4 separate regions of the Homo sapiens genome follow, and all the other regions are linked to region 1. The links come from fine-mapping of genetic effects on gene expression. A gene starts in region 1. Each other region holds a variant in brackets. All regions are shown on one strand. Distances are from middle to middle.

Evidence for each region. PIP is the estimated chance that this variant, and not a neighbour inherited with it, causes the effect. A credible set is the group of variants that fine-mapping cannot tell apart.
Region 2: its variant is the best candidate, but not a certain one, in a credible set for the expression of GFRA2 in whole blood (TOPMed, PIP 0.71).
Region 3: its variant is the best candidate, but not a certain one, in a credible set for the expression of GFRA2 in whole blood (TOPMed, PIP 0.62).
Region 4: its variant is the best candidate, but not a certain one, in a credible set for the expression of GFRA2 in esophagus muscle (GTEx, PIP 0.89).

Annotation. Positions count from the first base shown.
Region 1 is chr8:21,787,017-21,791,648 of GRCh38, reverse strand. GFRA2 (GDNF family receptor alpha 2) reads left to right here and starts at 2,774. Exons shown (of 9, transcript NM_001495.5): 1 at 2,774-3,529. The coding sequence starts at 3,490.
Region 2 is chr8:21,896,992-21,901,623 of GRCh38, reverse strand. No RefSeq gene overlaps it. Among named protein-coding and RNA genes, the nearest start is that of DOK2, 14 kb to the left of the region's middle. RefSeq lists a silencer at 4,093-4,152 and enhancers at 4,273-4,322, 4,413-4,562. The variant A/G (reference allele first, on the strand shown) is at 2,480.
Region 3 is chr8:21,836,432-21,841,063 of GRCh38, reverse strand. No RefSeq gene overlaps it. Among named protein-coding and RNA genes, the nearest start is that of GFRA2, 50 kb to the right of the region's middle. The variant G/C (reference allele first, on the strand shown) is at 1,921.
Region 4 is chr8:21,614,292-21,618,923 of GRCh38, reverse strand. No RefSeq gene overlaps it. Among named protein-coding and RNA genes, the nearest start is that of GFRA2, 170 kb to the left of the region's middle. The variant G/A (reference allele first, on the strand shown) is at 2,386.

The sequences.
Region 1 (4,632 bases):
TTTATAGATGAGATGACTGAGGTTCAGAAGTCCTCTTATCTATAAGGTGTTATAGTACATGTTCAACTGTGTTTCCTCTGTAGATCCCGGCACAAGGCAGGGGGTCTTCCTCATGGCAGATGCTCAGGAAATAAGGGATGATGCCATTTTTAAGAGCAGTTTGGGTTGAGTGTTGGGGTGGGCAGAGGGTGGGGTGTCATGGGATACGTCTGTATAGGCAGTAGGTAAGAGAGGGTCCAAGGTCAGAGTGCCCTGCAGTCACACAAGCTGAATGCTGGTGGTGACTGATTGGTGTTCTCTACTGTTCTTGGGATGGCTGGGTGGTCTTGGGTCGCAGAAGGGCCACTTACCTCCTGCTACCGGAATCCTCTTTCCTACTCCCGTGGGAGCTCAGTGAGAACCATCCCCAGGGCTTCATTGCTGCTTTCTCAGCCCCATTTTCTGGATAGGTGGGAGGGGAGAACTACATATATGATTCAGAGAATTTCTCTCATTATGCTCAAATGAAGTTAAAAGAAAGTGAAATTCTTTTTTGTGGGGAAGGGGAGAGGGATATGCTGAGCAGAAATTCTGGAGTTTGGAGCAGGGTCCTTGGAAGGGGGAAGGCCTGCGTGAGATTCCGAAATGGGTGGTGGTGGGGAGTATTTGGACAACCAGAAGACCCTGGAAGTCGAGGAGATGAGAGGGGGGACATTCATTTAGGCCAGGCTCCCAGCCTCGGGCCTCCAGGCCAAGCCTGCCTGGCAGTGTAATTCCTGTCAAGTTTTATCTTTTAACCTACACTTATCCAAAGCCGGTTCCTTATGCTCCCCAATTTTTGGAAAAAAAGCCAAGAGACCTTGTCAGATGCGAAGTCACTTCCTAGAACATGAGAGGCTTGGAGGAATGACAGGGAGGGCAGGCCTGAAGGGGGCTTTCCCCAACTCCAATCCCTAAGCCCTCTGTCCCAGACTCGTCACTACCCAGCTAGGGCCTAGGCTCGAAGCAGGCACAACTGGATGGCTGGGGGAGAAGATGGAGGGAGGAAGGTCGATGCCCCAGGACGGACCACAGGAAAGAGGCGTTCACAGGAGACTCGCTCTCTGTGCTTCCAAGGCCGGGAGCAGCCGCCTTCCCGCCTAAATCCTCAAGATGGAAGTTGCTCCCTCTAGCTTTCCCAATAGCTAAGGCTGCTGGTTTTGTTAGTGACCCCTCCCTTCTCGTCCAAGTCGATTTCTAGCATTTACTGGATTCCAGAGTCTTGTTATTTAAGAATGCATCTTAAACGGTACTATCAAATTCATGTTACGTGCAGCCCAGATTGTTTTGGGCAGCACGAAAAGTTTCTGAGGCGCTGCGTGTACCCCACCCCAGGACACCGTGTGTGCGCGCCGAGCTGAGTGCGAGGAACGTGGCGCGAGGGCCGGGGGATGCCGGGCTGCGTGGGTGTGAGCCCTCGCGCGACCGCGACCCCGCGCCTCTCCCGCTCTCGCCGGAACGTGACCGCAGCCGCACCTCTCCTCCAGCCCTTTCCCAGCCAGACGCTTCCTTTTAGGTCCTTCTGGGCGTTTATTGTAAATTCTGCGACTAAAACACGCCGGTGAGCCCGGCCCACCGACAGATGGATCAATCGCCCCCTTCCCGGCTAGGGGAGGAGGAACCCCCCAACCCCGGAGCCTAGGGAGCCGGGAGCTGCCTCGGGACGAGCTCCTCGGAGCCCAGCCGGCTGCGGAGCCCCGGCCCGGGTCGGTCTCGGGGCCCTCCTGCCGGGGTGGGGTGCGAGCCCCTGCCCGATTCCTCTGGGGCGGTTCAGGCAGGTTTGCCGGCCTCCGAGGAGGTGGTCAGGGCGCCCTGGCCCAGCAGGCTTCTTCCCGAGCCGGGGGGAGGGGAGACCGGCTGGGGAAGGGGCATCTCGAAGGGGTGGAGGCCGGGGCGGGCGGGAGGCAAGCGCGCCGCGGGCGTGAGGGCAAAGTTCCCGAGGTCCGCGCGGAGAGCACACGTGTATGTGCGCGCGGGGCTAGGCCGGGGCCGGCAGGATGCGTTGGGTTCGGGGGCGCGCGGGGCCGGCGCCGAAGGGGATAATTCCTTTCCCTGGCACCATCGGGGAGACGCTTTGTCGGCCTCGGCTCCTGGGCGCAGGGACGCCTTAGCCCACGGAGGGTGGAGCCCCCCTCAGACCCGGGCCACCGGCTGGGGTTTTTCTAACGCCCTGCCCCCCGAGCCCCCGGATGGCTCGGGCCCCACGGACTCCGCGCCCTCCAGCCTCAGCTCAGCTCCCCAGGCTTCCCAGACCCAGCGGCGCAGGGGGCGGGGGCAGGGGCAGTGGGGGTTGGAGGGCGCAGCCGGTCCCCAGGGTGGGGAGAGCTGCGGGGGGAGGAGGAGGAGGGTGCCGACGCTTGAGTGGGTTCGAGCCCGAGCCGTAGCCGGGGGAGCCAGTCAGTTTCCGGCCAAGGCAGCAGGTCAGTCCCAGGAAGGGCGGGCGATTGAGCCGAGGGAGCCGGCGGCTGGGCTCTCCTCTCGGCCCGCGATCCCCGGCGCCGCCGCCGCCGCCACCGCCACCGCCACCGCCTTCGCCTTGTCGCCGCCGCCGCTGCAGAGCATCGTAGCTCCGCCGCGCTCCCGCGCCCCGCGCCCCGCGCCGCCAGCCGCCTGGGAGCCCGAGCGCCGAGCCCGGGGCGGAGGAGAGGGGCGCTGGCGCGAGAGCCCGGGCGAGGGAGCCGCGAAGGGAGAAGGGGGCGGGCGGAGGGAGGAGCAGGGAGAGTGGGAGAAGGGGGAGGGAGAGAGGAGAGCGAGGGAGAGCTGGAGAGAGCGAGAGCAAAGAGCGAGCGAGGGAGAGGAGAGAGAGAGAGAGGAGAGAGAAAGACACACGCACGCAGAGACACACGGTCACTGGAATTCCATTAGAAAAAAGTGAGCCGAGCAAGGGTTAGCGGGAGAAGATTTTTTTGAATCTTGTCTTCGTCTTGGTGCGAAAGAAGCGACTCCAGTCTCTCGTCCTCGAAGCTCCGACTGGATTGTTCTTGGGCGCTGACACCCGTCTGTGGATTTCTTTTCTATTTGCATTTTATTCCGACCCCCTCCCTCGCCGCTTCCTTCCAGCCCTTCACTCGCAAATCGCCTCTCTCCCCACCTCCCCAGGCCCCTCCTGGGAAGCGCAGGGGAATTGGACCCGCGGGGACTCACGCCTTCCCGGACGATTGGAGGGGAGGGCTGACCCCAGGACTGGGCTGTTGGCTTAGAAAGCCGATACACAGATACGCGTATATTTGATTGTAGCGGGCAAGGGGGGCGTCGAGAGGCAGCAGCCCATCGCCCGCCTCTCACCCCACCCCCTCCAGCCAGAGGCGAGAATCGCAGGACTCGGGATCTTCATCGGGTGGACTAGCTGGGATCTCCGCATTGGATTTGGGGCTGATTACCACTGCTTGCCTATTATTATTGTTGTTGTTACTACTATTATTTTTTTTTACCCAAGGGAGAAAGACAAAAAAACGGTGGGATTTATTTAACATGATCTTGGCAAACGTCTTCTGCCTCTTCTTCTTTCTAGGTGAGTACCTGCGGGCGGCGAGCTCGAGGGGGAGGCGAGAAGCCGGGGAGGCGGGGGGCGAGCGGAGCGCCGGTGGGGGGCTGGCGGGAGGTCGGCGGGGAGAGCGCGCCGCGGAGCTAGCCGGGCCCGGTGCTGGCGAACCGAGCGGGGCCGGGCGGCAGGGACGCGGACGAGGGACCGGAGCCGCGGCTGGCTGGCGACGCAGGGGGATCGGGAGGGAGACTCAACATCCGAACCAGCCCCGCAGACACTGTGCACGCACACACACACCCGCGCTCGCTCACACGCCAGTATAGCGCGCATCTCCCCCGAAATAATGGGTTCGAATTGCGGCAACTTAAGAAAAAAAAATATCCAACTCTTGATCTGCAAGAAGGGAGGGAGAGAGAGGCTCCTAGGCGGGGAGAGAACAGTCCTGCGGGGTCCGCCTTTCCTGGTCTGCTCCCCGAGTCGGTCGTGGTGGAGGGCGCGGGTTTCTCCGGCGGCTCCCGCTTGGACATCGCGCGGGGAGCGCTGGCAGTCACTCCCCACCTGCCAGCCGCGCCTGGCAAACGGAGCCCGCGTCCCCACGCCCTGAGCCCCTAACCGGCGGCTCCACTCCCCGGAACACTTTTCAAGTTTCTCCCCACCGAGCCCCGAGCCAGATGGGTGGGCGGGAGCGGAGGGTTGTGAGCAGCCGTTCCCGGCCTTCCCTCCTCCACCTCTGGGGGCCGCGGACCCCCGTGGCTGGTGGGAAGAGGCGGGAGGGAGGCCAAAGTTTGCTTTCTCCGTTGAAGAGGGTGGGAGGCGAGGGAGGAAAAACGGGTCTGAACAAAGACCACTGCTCCTTCTGCAAACCCCCCCCACTGCCCCCCCCGCCGCCTCCAAGACAGGGAGGAGAGGCTGCCTGGCGCCACTGAGCCCCACGCAGTTTCTTTTCCACACAGAATTCCCAGCTCCTCTCTCCCTTTAAAGCTAGGTGAAATCGCAGCTGCTTGGGAAATGGCAATCTCCGGAGGGAGGTGAGGAAAGGCGGTTGTTTGCAAGGCTGTGCACCACCGGGAGTCCCAGGCAGGGCTGCTGCCAGGGAGTAGACGCTCCCATAGAGGGAGCCGGGTAACTAC
Region 2 (4,632 bases), 110 kb before region 1:
GGAGTGAATGAGGTCTCCAGGGCCCCCAGAGGGTGAGAATGGTCTAGAGCAGGACCTGCAGTTGGGGCCTGCTTGGTGCTGCATCTCTGATGCACTCTCAGAACCTGGGAGCCAGGCTTGCGGATGGAGGCACAGACAGGGCATGGACACTTTTCCCACCTCTCTCCCTGTTCCTATGTCCTCACCTCGGCCCCCATCCTGCAGTGGCTGGGGCCTTCTGGAAGCCCCAGGGGCTGAGAAACTCCTCATCATGGAGATTTCAAGGAGCATGATGTCTGATCCAGAAAGGTCCTAATAGCACTTCAGCCTGAGGCCTTATTTTTGTACTTATGGAAACTGAGGCCAAGTTGATTTTTAAATCCCTCTCAGGTGTTTTACATTTTATGAGAATTTGTTTATGGTTGTGCTTCAGGGAAAGGACTCAATCACCAAAGTCAAGGCTTCCTGCATCCACAGGGAGATTTTTTTTTTTTTTCCTTTTTCCTTTTTTTTTTTTTGAGGCAGTCTCACTCTGTTGCCCAGAATGGAATGAGGTGGTACAATCTCGGCTCACTGTAATCTCCGCCTCCCAGTTCAAGCAATTCTCCTGCCTTAGCACCCCCAGGTAGCTGGGATTACAGGCATGCACCACCACACCCAGCTAATTTTTGTGTTTTTAGTAGAGAGGGGGTTTTGCCACGTTGGCCAGGCTGGTCTCGAACCCCTGACCTCAGGTGATCCACCCACCTCGGCCTCCCAAAGTGCAGGGATTACAGGTGTGAGCCACCATGCTCAGCCAGTGGGAGATAGTTTTTGATCTTTTATGCAAGTGAGGGAGAGCAAAAGGGAAGGAGATTTCTGATTCCCTGTTCTACCTTCCTGCAAGGGCTACTATCACTGAGTAAGGGTTTCTTCCCCTCCCTAAGATCATCACTGCATGGCTCTGAGCAAATTCATTGGGGAGTGAGTTAATTACAGGCAGCTGAGGCTGAGCTGCTCTTTTCCTGCTGGTTACCTTGCTGCCCATGGTGGAAGGAAAGCTCTGCGGACTTATTCTCTTTCCATCCTCCTCTGATGACTACTCCCCCTATGTTACCATTGACGTTGATCCCTGAGGGGTAGCTTTCCCTAGCAGGCAACTTCAGAGTAAGGTGCAGTGGCCAACTCTGGGCTCCAATTCCTGCTTCCACCTACAAATAAGAACCATTTGGCCCATGAGTATGCACAAGGCCATACAGGCTCAGGGCTGATGGGATGAAGAAGTGAACTGGGATGGGTCTGGTTGAAGGGGAAGGAGTGGACACACAAAAGAACAACCAGAGATGGCGTCTAGGAAAGGAACCAGAGGTTCCATGGTGATGAAGGGTCATCTAGAAATGGCTCGAGGGAGGGCAGCTGGGACAAGATGATCCTGCTGGGTCACAGGGCAAGGAGAAGCCTCAAGAGGTTGCTGGAGTAGTTACTTAAGCCAGGTTCCAGCCCTGCCAAACTGCCTGCAAGACTGATTTGTCTGGCTGGGTGCAATGGCTCATGCCTGTAATCCCAGCACTTTCGGAGGCCAAGGTGGCCAGATCACCTAAGGTCAGGGAGTTCAAGACCAGCCTGGCCAAGATGGTGAAACCCCATCTCTACTAAAAATACAAATTAGCCAGGCGTGGTGGCGCATGCCTGTGATACCAGCTACTCTGGAGGCTGAGGCTGGAGAATCGCTTGAGCCTGGGGAGTGGAGGTTGCAGTGAGCTGAGATCCCACCATTGCACTTCAGCCTGGGTGACAAGAGCAAAACTCCGTCTCAAAAAAAAAAAAAATCGGTTTGTCTGAACCTGGGGATTATGGCTAAGAAGCAATGAGAAAAAATTTGGTTTTCTCAAAGACTGTTGGCTGAAAGAGAATGGGAACTTGGCTAGCTCTGGGGTAGGAGGTGGGGATGGAGGAGGGGTTGAGGACTCACAGAAGCATGGCCAGCCAGGGTGGACTGGACACAGAGCACTCAGTAGGCTTTTGTGGGCAGGCCTGGCAGGCTGGAGATGAGCCTTGCGGGAAGTAAGGACTGGTGTCCAGAGCCAGACATTCAGGGTCTGGGGCCCTCAGGGCCACTTGGGCCGAATTGACCAGCCACACTCGGCAAACCCAGCCTGAACCTATAGCAGAGACGGGGCCAGCTCTCTGCAGCGCATTCGGATCTTCAGTTATTATCAGACCCTCCAGACAGCCAATCTCTCTTCTCTTGGTCCTGACTTCTGGCTTGGCTGGCCCAGCACAGGGCCCTGTTCCCCAGCAGACAAAATAGAGCTGCCTCCTAAAAAGAAAGTCACCTTTGACATTTTTTTTTTTGTTAGATGGAGTCTTGCTCTGTCACCCAAGGCTGGAGTGCAGTGGTGCGATCTCACTCACCTCACTGCAACCTCCACTTCCCAGGTTCAATCCCAGATTCTTCTGCCTCAGCCTCCCAAGTAGCTGGGATTACAGGTGCCTGCCACTACGCCTGGCTAATTTTTGT[A/G]TTTTTAGTAGAGATGGGGTTTCACCATGTTGGCCAGGCTGGTCTTTGACTTCTTTGATGGGGAAGGCAGGTGAGGCCAGCAGTAGGGCAGAGGGCAATGTGCTTGGACATTGTGGCTTGTTCATCAACCCATAACCTCTGCAGGTCCGTGACAATGGACACTAGACAGGGAACTAAATTAGGAGCTCTAATCCCAGGTCTGCCACTAACTGGCCATGGGCCGTCCAGCAAGTCTCTTCCGTCTCTGGGCCTTATTCTCCCATCTGCAGAATGATAGGCCTGGATCAGGAGACCTTCAAAATTCCCATTAATGCTATATAGTCTTTTGTTTGGGGGAAATTGTCAGGATAGCAAGTCAGCAGGAATGACTTTGCCAAGAGGGAATGAGGAAAATATAGGTTCAAAGGCTTAACTGAAACCTTGTGGGGCTCTCTTCTGGGATTCGGCTATGTCCAGAGCAATGGTAGGGTGGGTCCAGTAGCATGAGGGGCAGTGGAGCTCCCTGGGACAGAACTTACCCTAAAGCAAGGAGATAGCACTGCAGGTTTTCTGTGCAAGCTTATGCAGCTTGAGCAATGAGTAAATTTAGGAGACACCATTTATAATGAGGGCTTAGGCAAGCATGAGAAACTTGACCAAGGCAAAAGAGCAAGCTGTCAGGTAGATGAGGTGCTTTGAGGATGGTATAGTGTCTACTGGGACACCATGGACAGCTGCACAGGCTGTGCACTGCACGAGTCCAGGTGGCACCATTAGAGCACAGTGGAGTTACCTCTGGGCATCTATCTCTAGGACTTATCTCTCAACACGCCTCTTTCACTTAGAGTTCTTAAGGCCTTTGGGCACACACTGCACATTTGGGCATTCATCTAGTTGAGGTTGAAACAGAGCAGGGAATGGGACAGTTTCATCACTTTGCTACAGGGTGCCAAGCACTGTCAGCCTCAGGAGTTTGGGAGTTGGTGGCGCCCACTGAACACCCAGTGAAGTGTAGAAGCAGTGGTCTCAGTGGACATGGCACCAGTGCCAGAAGACACAGAGCCAGCCCCTGGGGACAGCCACAAATACCTGGGAGGCATTTTTCATGGACTAGTTTCCTTCATTAGCAGGCGCCTGCAAGTGGCTGTAAAATCCAGCTTCACTCTTCCTGGGAAGCTGGTCTTAGAGCCATCTCCCAGTTCAGCTGCCTCTTCTCCCTCCCGTCCTCACTTGGCTGTGTCTCACCTGGGCTGGGTCCCAGCCAGGCTCACCTCCTTCAGCTACCAGAAACGTCTGTCTCCAAGCATGAATCATCCCTGAACTGAGCCCTGCCCGCTTCATGTAGCTTTCTTCCTTGTCTCTCCTCTCAGCCATTTGGCCTGGTCCTCTTTGTTACTTTTTTTTTTTTTTTGAGATGGAGTCTTGCTCTGTCTTCCAGATTGGAGTGCAGTGGCACGATCTTGGCTCACTGCAACCTCTGCATCCTGGCTTTACGTGATTCTTCTGCCTCAGCCTCCCGAGATCCTTTGATTACAGGTGTATGCCACCATGCCCACATAATTTTTGTATTTTTAGTAGAGACGGGTTTCACCACATTGGCCAGGCTGGTCTCAAACTGCTGACCTCAAGTGATCCGCCCACCTCGGCCTCCCAAAGTGCTGGATTACAGGCGTGAGCCACCGCACCCATCCTCTCTTTGTTCCTTTTACACAGGGAGTCATGGACATAGGGGTCTCCGTTACAGGAGGAAGTGAGAAAGCAGCTTCTGTTTACGGAAACCACAGTTAGCCGCAGAGACTGCCTTGTTACAGCATGTCACATTGTCCCAAATACTGGGTATGGGGATCTCCTGGGGGTGCAGTGGTCTTGACCCCTCCTGGGGCACTGGACTTCTTAGGATCCAGAACACTCCATGTTTTCCTTTGTTCCTTTCTGGAAAGGCATGGATGTTCTTTGTGTTCTGCAGATGAGGAAACTGAGCTCGCAGAAACTGGATGACTGGCTCCAGGCTGCCGGGGCTCCTAAGTGGCTGAGCTGGGACTTGGCCAAGCCCTTCCCAGCATGCCAGGCTGCCTGCTGGCCATGCTGCTTGTTACGGTCCCGAGGGGAGATTCCTTCGTTTGTGACATGAAGACTTCCAAGGGACAGTGGCAAGAGAACTAACTCCAGGGACT
Region 3 (4,632 bases), 49 kb before region 1:
GTCCCAGCCTGAAGCCCCTCTGAACCCTGACAGCTGGCAGCCAGGGAGGACAGGGGAGCTTCTTTGGGGAATGGGAGCAGTTGCTTGGTGGTCCCCACCCAAGGCAAGGTCCCTGTTCCTGGGGAGAGCTTGGTCTGGCTGGCAGAACTTTCCAAGTTGGTGCCTGTGGCTGGGAATATTCCATGGGAGTTTGGATAGGGTTCACAAAGGCAATGGGTGGCTGGGTGCGGTGGCTTATGTCTGTAATCCCAGCACTTTGGGGGGCCAAGGCAGGCTGATCACTTGAGGTTAGGAGTTCGACACCAGCCTGGCCAATATGGAGAAACCCCGTCTCTATTAAAAATACAAAAAAAAAAAAAATTAGCGGGCTGTGGTGGTGGGTGCCTGTAATCCCATCTACTTGGGAGGCTGAGGCAGGAGAATTGCTTGAACCTGGGAGGTGGAGGTTGCAGTGAGCTGAGATTGTGCCACTGCACTCCAGCCTGGGCGACAGAGTGAGACATGATCTCAAACAAACAAACAAAAAACAAAGGCAATAGGTGATGGGTACCCAGACATCTTTTCTCCCTGCTTGGATGAAGCCAGTCACACAGCCAGGACTGGCTTGATGAATCAGTACAGGAGGAATCTTCCCACATTGGATTAGAAAGGTACAGGGAAGGCCTTCCTGCCCCCTCAAATGTCTCCCCTATTACACCTGGAGACCCCAATTAAAAGTAATTACCCATGGCAGAGGCCATACTTTAAAGTGACATTAGTGCATGCATTAGATTCCCCAGTGGCTGACTGAGTGTTGGAGAGGCCAGTGCAGGTGGTAAGGGGCAGTGCCAGGGGCCCTAGGGGTAGGGAACTGAGACCAGAAAAGGTTAAAAACAAACAAACAAACAAACAAAGACCAGGTGCAGTGGCTCACGCCTGTAATCCCAGCATTTTGGGAGGCCAAGGCAGGTGGATCACAAGGTCAGGTGTTCGAGACCAGTCTGACAAACATGGTGAAACTCTGTCTCTACTAAAAAAATTAGCTGGGCGCTAATTTTTGTATTTTGTAAAAATACAAAAATAAAGTGGTGCACGCCTGTAATCCCAGCATTTTGGGAGGCCAAGGCAGGTGGATCACAAGGTCAGGTGTTCGAGACCAGCCTGACAAACATGGTGAAACTCTGTCTCTACTAAAAAAATTAGCTGGGCGCTAATTTTTGTATTTTTGTATTTTGTAAAAATACAAAAATTAGGTGGTGCACGCCTGTAATCCTAGCTACTCAGGAGGCTGAGGCAGGAGAATCGCTTGAACCCTGGAGGCAGAGGTTGCAGTGAGCCGAGATCTTGCCATTGCATTCCAACCTGAGCAACAGAGTGAGACTCTGTCTCAACAAAACAAAACAAAACAAACAAACAAAAAACCAACCAAACAAAACAAAAAGAAAAAAAAAAGACAGTCTTCTGACCACTTGAACTCCCACAGCCACCAGGAAGTCCTCTGTATCCATTCATCCTAGGGAGGCGGCTAGGCTGAGAGATTCCTCTGCAGCTAAACCAAGAAAGACTTTGCTGGTGCAGGGCAAGGGTGGGGCCAGGAAACCAGCTCCAGTGGGGCTCACCTTCTGTCTCCTTTGTTTTCTAGCTGGGTGGCCCTGGGCAGGTGACTTATCCTCTCCAGCCTCAGTTTCTCCATCTGTAAGAAATCATTACCAATTCCGTAAGGGTGCTGGGCAGATTCAGTGAGACAATGTGGCATATTCAGAATAGTGCCCCGTAAGTGCAGAGAAGGTGTGGCTGCCCCGGTCAGGGAGGGTTCAGGCCTATGTTCCATGAAGCTCCTGTCTCCCTGTCTGCCTATTCCTCGGGCTGCTGATCAGTCTTTCTTAATAAGCCTCTCTTTATCTGCCCCTCTTCTTCGCCATCGCTCAGCTCGTCCTGTGT[G/C]TCTGGCCGCTGTCATGTTATCTCCCTGTCTATCTTGTTCCCATCTCTGCTGTGTGCCTGGCTCCATCTCTCCCCGCCTCCATCCCATCCTCCCTCCTTGCTCTGGGTTTCTCCTTGCCATCTGTCTGGCAAACGCTAGTCCTATGGACCCCCGCCCCCGGCCCATCACTATCACCCCCTCCCCACAGACCCCCGGGACTTTCCCGCCTGAGCCCGGCTCCTTGTGCCCGTCTTCCTGTGCCCCCTCTTTCCCACAACAGACCTGGCCTGAGCCGTTTCCTGGCACTCCCACCCCACCCTGAGCAGGCGGTGTGGAGTGGAGCAATGCAGGCAGATGAGGGGGAGTGCGGTCTCCCGAGGCGAGGGTCGGGCCTGCTAATTCCCCCGCTCTGGGTGGAAGACGCAGAGGCCTCATTCAATTATGTCACATCCACTCAGCCGCTCCACCCAGATGATACAGACCAGCCTGCTCACCCTCCCCTGCCAGGACCTAATGGAGAGAGATCTTCTTCTGCCTGGCCGACCACAGGGTCCTCCTGGACCTGGATGGGCCCAGCCTGTCTGACCTCAGGGCTCTTGGCCAATTGCGATTTGCTGTTCACTCCAATTACACCCAACAATTGGCCTCTGGAGTTTGTCCCTCTCACCGTAATCATTATGGAATTGGATCTCGGGGCCTCTCATTCCATTACTGCCCCCTCCCCATGTGTCCAAGGCCTGCAGGAGCCAGGCCGGCCTTACCCCTCCCTTAAGGCCCCAGCCCGTGGGTAAGCAGACCAGGGAGGTGACCACAGGGACACAGGGCCTGCTTCTCCCATTTGAAATACACACCTAAGGGCATCACCATGGTGTTCGTTCCAGGCATCAGTTCTTTACTGACTCAAAGCTGTGCCAGGTGCTGTGGGAGATTCCAGAGAAACCCCAAACCCTTTCCATTGCTCAAGAAGTTCAGTCTGGGGAGACGAAGCCAACAGAATGAAACAATTACGCCCAGTGCCGGCCATAAATAGAAGTGGATTCAGGGAACAGAAGATCAGATATCTGGAGGACACACATTTATTGGGAGTTTACTGGGTGGCAGATTCTTTCATGTGCCTGATATCATTTAATCCTCACCAATCTGGGAGAAAGGTATTGTCTCCATGTTTGAAGGGTCTGGGGGTAGAAACAGGCCCAGAGTCATTGAGAGGCTTGTCTGAACTCAAGCCGCTGTTAAGTGACACAGCCTGTGCTCAGCGCCTTGGAGTGAAATCATTTCTTTCCCGGCGTCCTGTAGGAGCTGCTGTGTTTAGGGCAGGCTCTGAGGCAGGATAGGGTGGGCAGAGGGAAGGAGGGAGGACCTCAGGTGGGGACAGCTGGAGCGAGTTTAGAAATAAGGACATTTCAGCTGGGTGTGGTGGCTCACGCCTGTAATGCCAGCACTTTGGGAGGCTGAGGCAGGAGGATCACGAGGTCAGGAAATCGAGACCATCCTGGCCAACATGGTGAAACCCCGTCTCTACTGAAAATACAAAAATTAGCTGGGCGTGGTGGTGTGTGCCTGTAATCTCAGCTACTCGGGAGGCTGAGGTGGGAGAATCGCTTGAACCTGGGAGGCAGAGGTTGCAGTGAGCTGAGATCTTGCCACTGCACTCCAGCCTGGCGACATAGCGAGACTCTGCCTCAAAAAAAAAAAAAAAAAAAAAAAAGGACATTTCAGAAAACAACAGATGCTGACAAGTCTATGGAGAAACAGTAATGCTTTTACACTGTTGGTGGGAGTGTAAATTAGTTCAACCATTGTGGAAGACAGTGTGGCGATTCCTCAAGGATCTAGAACTAGAAATAGCATTTGACACAGCAATCCCATTACTGGGTATATACCCAAAGGATTATAAATCATTCTACTAGAAAGACACATGCACACGTGTGTATTGCAGCACTGTTTACAATAGCAAAGACTTGGAACCAACCCAAATGTCCATCAATGATAGACTGGATAAAGAAAATGTGGCACATATGCACCATGGAATACTATGCAGCCATAAGAAAGAATGAGATCATGTCCTTTGCAGGAACATAGATGAAGCTGGAAACCATCATTCTCAGCAAACTAACACAGGAACAGAAAATCAAACACTGCACGTTCTCACTCATAAGTAGGAGTTGAACAGTGGAGAACACATGGACACAGGGAGGGGAACATTACACAGTGGGGCCTGTTCGGGGGGTGGGGGCAAGGGGAGGGAGAACATTAGAACAAATACCTAATGCATGCGGGGCTTAAAACCTAGATGATGGGTTGATAGGTGCAGCAAACCACCATGGCACATTTACAGCTATGTAACAAACCTGCACGTTCTGCACATGTATCCCGGAACTTAAAGTAAAATAAAAAAAAGTTACAAAAGAAAGAAGGACATTGATGGGGGTAAAGTGAGAGGGCTGCCGGCAGGGTGGGGGATATGCTGTGGGGAATATGAGAAATGCGGCTGGCTAAGGAAAGTGGGGGCCTTGCATGGCTCACAGAAGAGTCTGGGTCTCGAAATTCGGCAGAGAGGATCACTTGCAAGGGAATGAGTAGCAGACCAGTGCAGTGGGATGGTTTGTCCCCCAAAAAGACATGTGCACATTCTGGTACCAGGGATTGTGAAGTTATTTGAAAATGTTGTCTTTGCCGATGTGATTAAGGATCTCTAGGTAAGATCATCCTGGATTTAGGGTGGGCCCTAC
Region 4 (4,632 bases), 170 kb after region 1:
TTGAGTACTTTGTTTCTATTCTTATTACATTATATGATGAAATAATTATACAACTTACCATAATGTAGACTCAGTGGGAGCCCTGAGCTTGTTTTCCTGCAACTAGACAGTACCATCTGTGGGTGATGGGAGACAGTGACATCAGGCATTAGATTCTCATAAGGAGTATGCAACCTGGATCCCTCACACGCGCAGTTCACAATAGAGTTCACGCTCCTATGAGAGTCTAATGCTGCTGATGATCTAACAGGGGGCGAGCTCAAGTGGTAATGCAGGTGATGGGGCGCGGGTGTAAATACAGATGAAGCTTCACTCACTCACCTGCTGCCCACCTCCTGCTGTGCAGCCTGGTTCCTAATAGGCCCTGGACAGGTACCAGTCTGTGGCCTGGGGGTTGGGGACTCCTGGTATATATGATGTTCATGATATACATTATTAAGATTAATTCCACACCTTCCCCCCCGCTTTTTAATGTGGCTACTAGAAAGTTTAAAATTTTATCCATGGCTCACATGACATTTCCACTGGGCAGCACTGATCTAGTCCAGTGCTCTCATTTACAGATGAGGAACCTAAGGATCAGAGGAGGGAAGCGTTTCCCAAGGCCTCATACCCAGTGGGGATTAAGTAGAGAAAGCTGGGAGGTCTACATGTTGTTTCACTGCATCAGTTATTTTTGTATAAACTATGGTGGGTGGAGAGAGAGGGGGCATGATCCCAGTGGTCTGTCTCAAAAGTTGACACCAGTTGTCCAGTCTTGGCATAGATTTGGGATGTTGACATAAATCTAGAATGCAGGCCTAGGACCTTTCTCCATGCAACTGGCCATGCTACTGTCCATGAAGCTCTTCCCTCCATGGTGGGTTCTTGGTCTTTTTGGTGGGGGTGGGTCTTCTCCATATGTGGCCTTGGTGCAGACAGCCTGGACAGGTCATGGCAGAAGAGCTGAAAAGCAGTTTAGAGAGAGCATCCTTCTCACCACTCAATATCACATCAGTGTTGAAGAAGTCTTGCCACACTTCTGGAGAGTTTCCTAAACCTGCAGGACTCAGCAACATTCAAATGGATTCTGCAAATATTTCTTGAGCAGATCCTCTGTACCTAGGCTGAGAAAAGGAGAAGACACAGCTCTTGGGCTCTGTGACTTTATCACCTGGGACAAGAGAATCCATTATACATGAAACAACTCAAGAGCAATGGCAGACAACAAGGCAAGTCCCAAGAGGGCATCCAAGCCTGCAATTGTGATATGGTGGGAAGCACGGTCATGACGATGGCCTGGTTTGGTGAAAGTATATCCAGCATAGAATCCTTATATAGTCTTGAGTCCTGCTATGAACAAATTCAGTGATTTGGGCAGATTGCATTCTCTCTGACCTCAGTGTTCTCATTTGTTCACTGGAATAATGCCTTCCCTCTGGTTCCTGTTCCCCAGTGAGGCTGGGCACGGTGAAAGTGCCACACCCAGCCCAGGAAGAGGTGCCACTTTGGGCTGAGGTTTCAGGACCTCTATAGGTAGAGGGCAGGTGGGAACTTCTGAATGTAACCCATGAGGGAAGCCAGTCAAATAATTTATCTTCCAAAAGAAGATGCTGCTGCAGGTGAAAGGGAATGCTATTAATATTAAAACTGGGACAAGGGATGGAGAGAATGATTGTTCTATGTATATGGGACATATGGCCACCCTACTGGGCAGAGGCCAAAAGACATAGCAAAGACATTGTCCAGTTTGGGCTTTGAGGCTAGTACAGGGAAAAGCTTTGTGACAGAGGTTGGAGGCAGGGGTAGATGGTGAGGGTCAGGGTAGGGGTGAATGCAGGGAAGAATTTTGTGATAGCACTGGATCAGACAAAAGAAGCAAGGCCATAGAGTGCTAGACCTGGTGCCCAGCATGGCACAGCCCTGCAGTGCTGGACACTTGCCTCCCAGGGCTATTGCAAATCTAAACTGAGAACACAATAGGAGGTGTGAAGTTTGGGGATCCAGTGAGGCACTTTTATTCTCATTCCTGGCACAGTGAGCATATTTTATGGGTGTCCCCTGGCTGCTGATGGAAGAAAGCCTGCTGCGCGGATACCCCAGAGGGAGCCCAAGAATGCTCCTCGAGTGAGGCCACAGCCACTGCTGCAGGATGTAGCGGTTTAAATGTTTGAGACCTTGGGTGCTTCCCCAGGGCCTCCAGCCCTGTCCCCATCCCAAACAATGGGATCTGTTGAGCCAGATGGCTCCCAGGCAACAGGAAGCCCTGGGTCCAAGCCCCAAACATAGAGCCTTGGAGGAGATGCCCCAGTGACCTCTAGCTGGAGAGCACAAAGGGGCCGATTTTTCCTGGCTATGGGGCTGGAGCGGGAAAAAGCAGCGCTGTGGCTTTGACTCTAGAGAAAC[G/A]TGACTGGCCTAGTGTTCCAGCCTTTGCCCTGCAGCTCTCTGTTCCATCTGCTGACTTCATGGGATTGTCCTTCGAGTCCAGCTGGACCATGGTGCAAGGCAGGGGAGACAGGGCCTTTTCTTCCCCTCCCTGTGGCCCCTGGGGGTCAGGCCTGGTGCTGGGCATGGAATCCTTTTGGCTGCCCCCTGCACAAACCCATTGTCCCCACCACCTTCCTGTGCCCATCTTGCCCATGGCTTTCTCGCTGGGGCCTGCAGGGATTTGTGGAAACAACATACCTGAGCCTCCAGCCAGGTGAAGTGGTAAAACCCTCTCCTCTTCACAGGCCCCAGAGATTGGGTCTCTTTGCTTATTAACTCTGCGGCCTCCCCCGGCCCTGTGTCTTGGGATTCAACTGCACACATTTGGTTAACAGCAAGGCCGTCCCTGATGCCAGAGATCGCCATAGGCACTGAGGGGCCAGTCCTCACCCTCACTGTTTGATGGCATTTCCTCCTAGGAAGATGCCCAAGCAGAACACTTTGGCCTTTCGTGGTTGCCTTTAAATGGACCCAGTGGGATTTCTCTTTTAGAGCTCTCTGTTAGGAATCTCCCTAAGCTTGGTGCAGTTCCCCAGCTAGAAGAGGTCTTTGGCAGATCCCCTGGACTCTCTTCCTGCACCATGCTGAAATGTAGGCAGGGCTAGGCCTGTCTTCCTTACAGTTTCCTCTCTACTCATGAGTTGGTCCCATGGAGAAATCGACATCTTTCTTCCATTGATTGGTATCTACAGATAGAGCCCAACCAGGCTTCCTTCCCTCAGGGAAGCAGACCCATGTTTTAAGGGTACCTGGGATTGGTTTTAGTCAGAGATGGTATGAGACCCAGACACAGAAATGACTGTCACGAAGGAAGGAGAAGGGAGGCCCAGCGTGCAGGGCCACAGAAGGGAAGCACCAGGGGTGGTCGCAAGGCAGAAGAAGGGAGGGAAAAACGTGGCCAGGAGCCTTTACAGTGGTTTCCCTGGGACAGCTCAGGCCCAGAGCTGGCTAGTTTGAATAGTTACAGCAGCTCTGTGGCACAGGGACTGTCCCTAGTTGTCTGGTCCCTGGCCCTGGGGTGAGTCGGCCAGGTAGAGAGAGGTCCAGAGTGAAGTGTAAGAAGATGATAGGGGTAAGTGGTAAAGGAGTGGACTCTGGATTGGTTGGTTCGCTCTCTCCAGGAATTTGCTAGCTCTGGGAGAGGCAGCCCTCCAGTATCAGCAAGGCCCCGAGATGTCAAAGCATCGAATGCGGAAACTAGAAAATGTGGTTAGTGCACCCTGTCTCTTCAAAAGTCCTATAGAGAGCCAGGCACGGTAGCTCACACTTGTAATCCCTGCACTTTGGGAGGCTGAGGTGGGCGGATCACCTGAGGTCAGGAGTTTGAGACCATCTTGGCCAATGTGGTGAAACCTCATCTCCATTAAAAAACAAACAAACAAACAAACAAACAAACAAAAAAACTAGCCAGGCTTGGTGGCGGGCACCTGTAATCTCAGCTACTCAGGAGCCTGAGGCGGGAGAATCGTTTGAATCCAGGAGGCAGATGTTGCAGTGAGCCGAGATCGTGTCACTTCATTCCAGCCTGGGAAACAGTGCGAGACTCCGTCTCAAAAAAAAAAAAAAAAAAGAAAAAAAAAAAAGTCCTGTAGAGTTCCTGGCAATTCTGCTACAGTTACTTTCAACAAAACTTTATGCTTTTTGGAATCTGATTCAAGCATCAGGGTCTCTTCTGGGAAGTCTTCTGTCATCCTGCCCCTGGGAACCCCCCAGTGGAATTGCTCTCTTCTCCTGTAGAATCCATCTGTCTCTCTGGGGGACCCCTGCTGTCCTGTGCCGTAGCTTGGGGTTAGTTGTGTTTATGTTTGCTTTTCCCCATGAGCCGTGAGAGCCTTGAGGGTTCACCTGATCCCGTATCCCTTGCAGTGTCTGCCGCAGACAGGCCTGGCTCCACAGGCCTTGGCAGATCATTGAGTGAACATGGACCACAGGCCATTTGAGTATCTCCACACTCAAGGGGGCCGTAATATCTGCTGCCTTGGTGTCATTCTTCAGAAAGTGGCAGGAGACATGCGGTGTGGGCACCCGGCAAGCCATTTGTGTTCTTGTTACTGGTACCACAGGTAAGCATTTTTGTGGATGTCCCCTGGCTGCGGGTGTGCTGTGCCTGGAGGAATTCCTATAGTACATGACATTATGGAAGTCCTTCAAGCCTGGACTTCTATA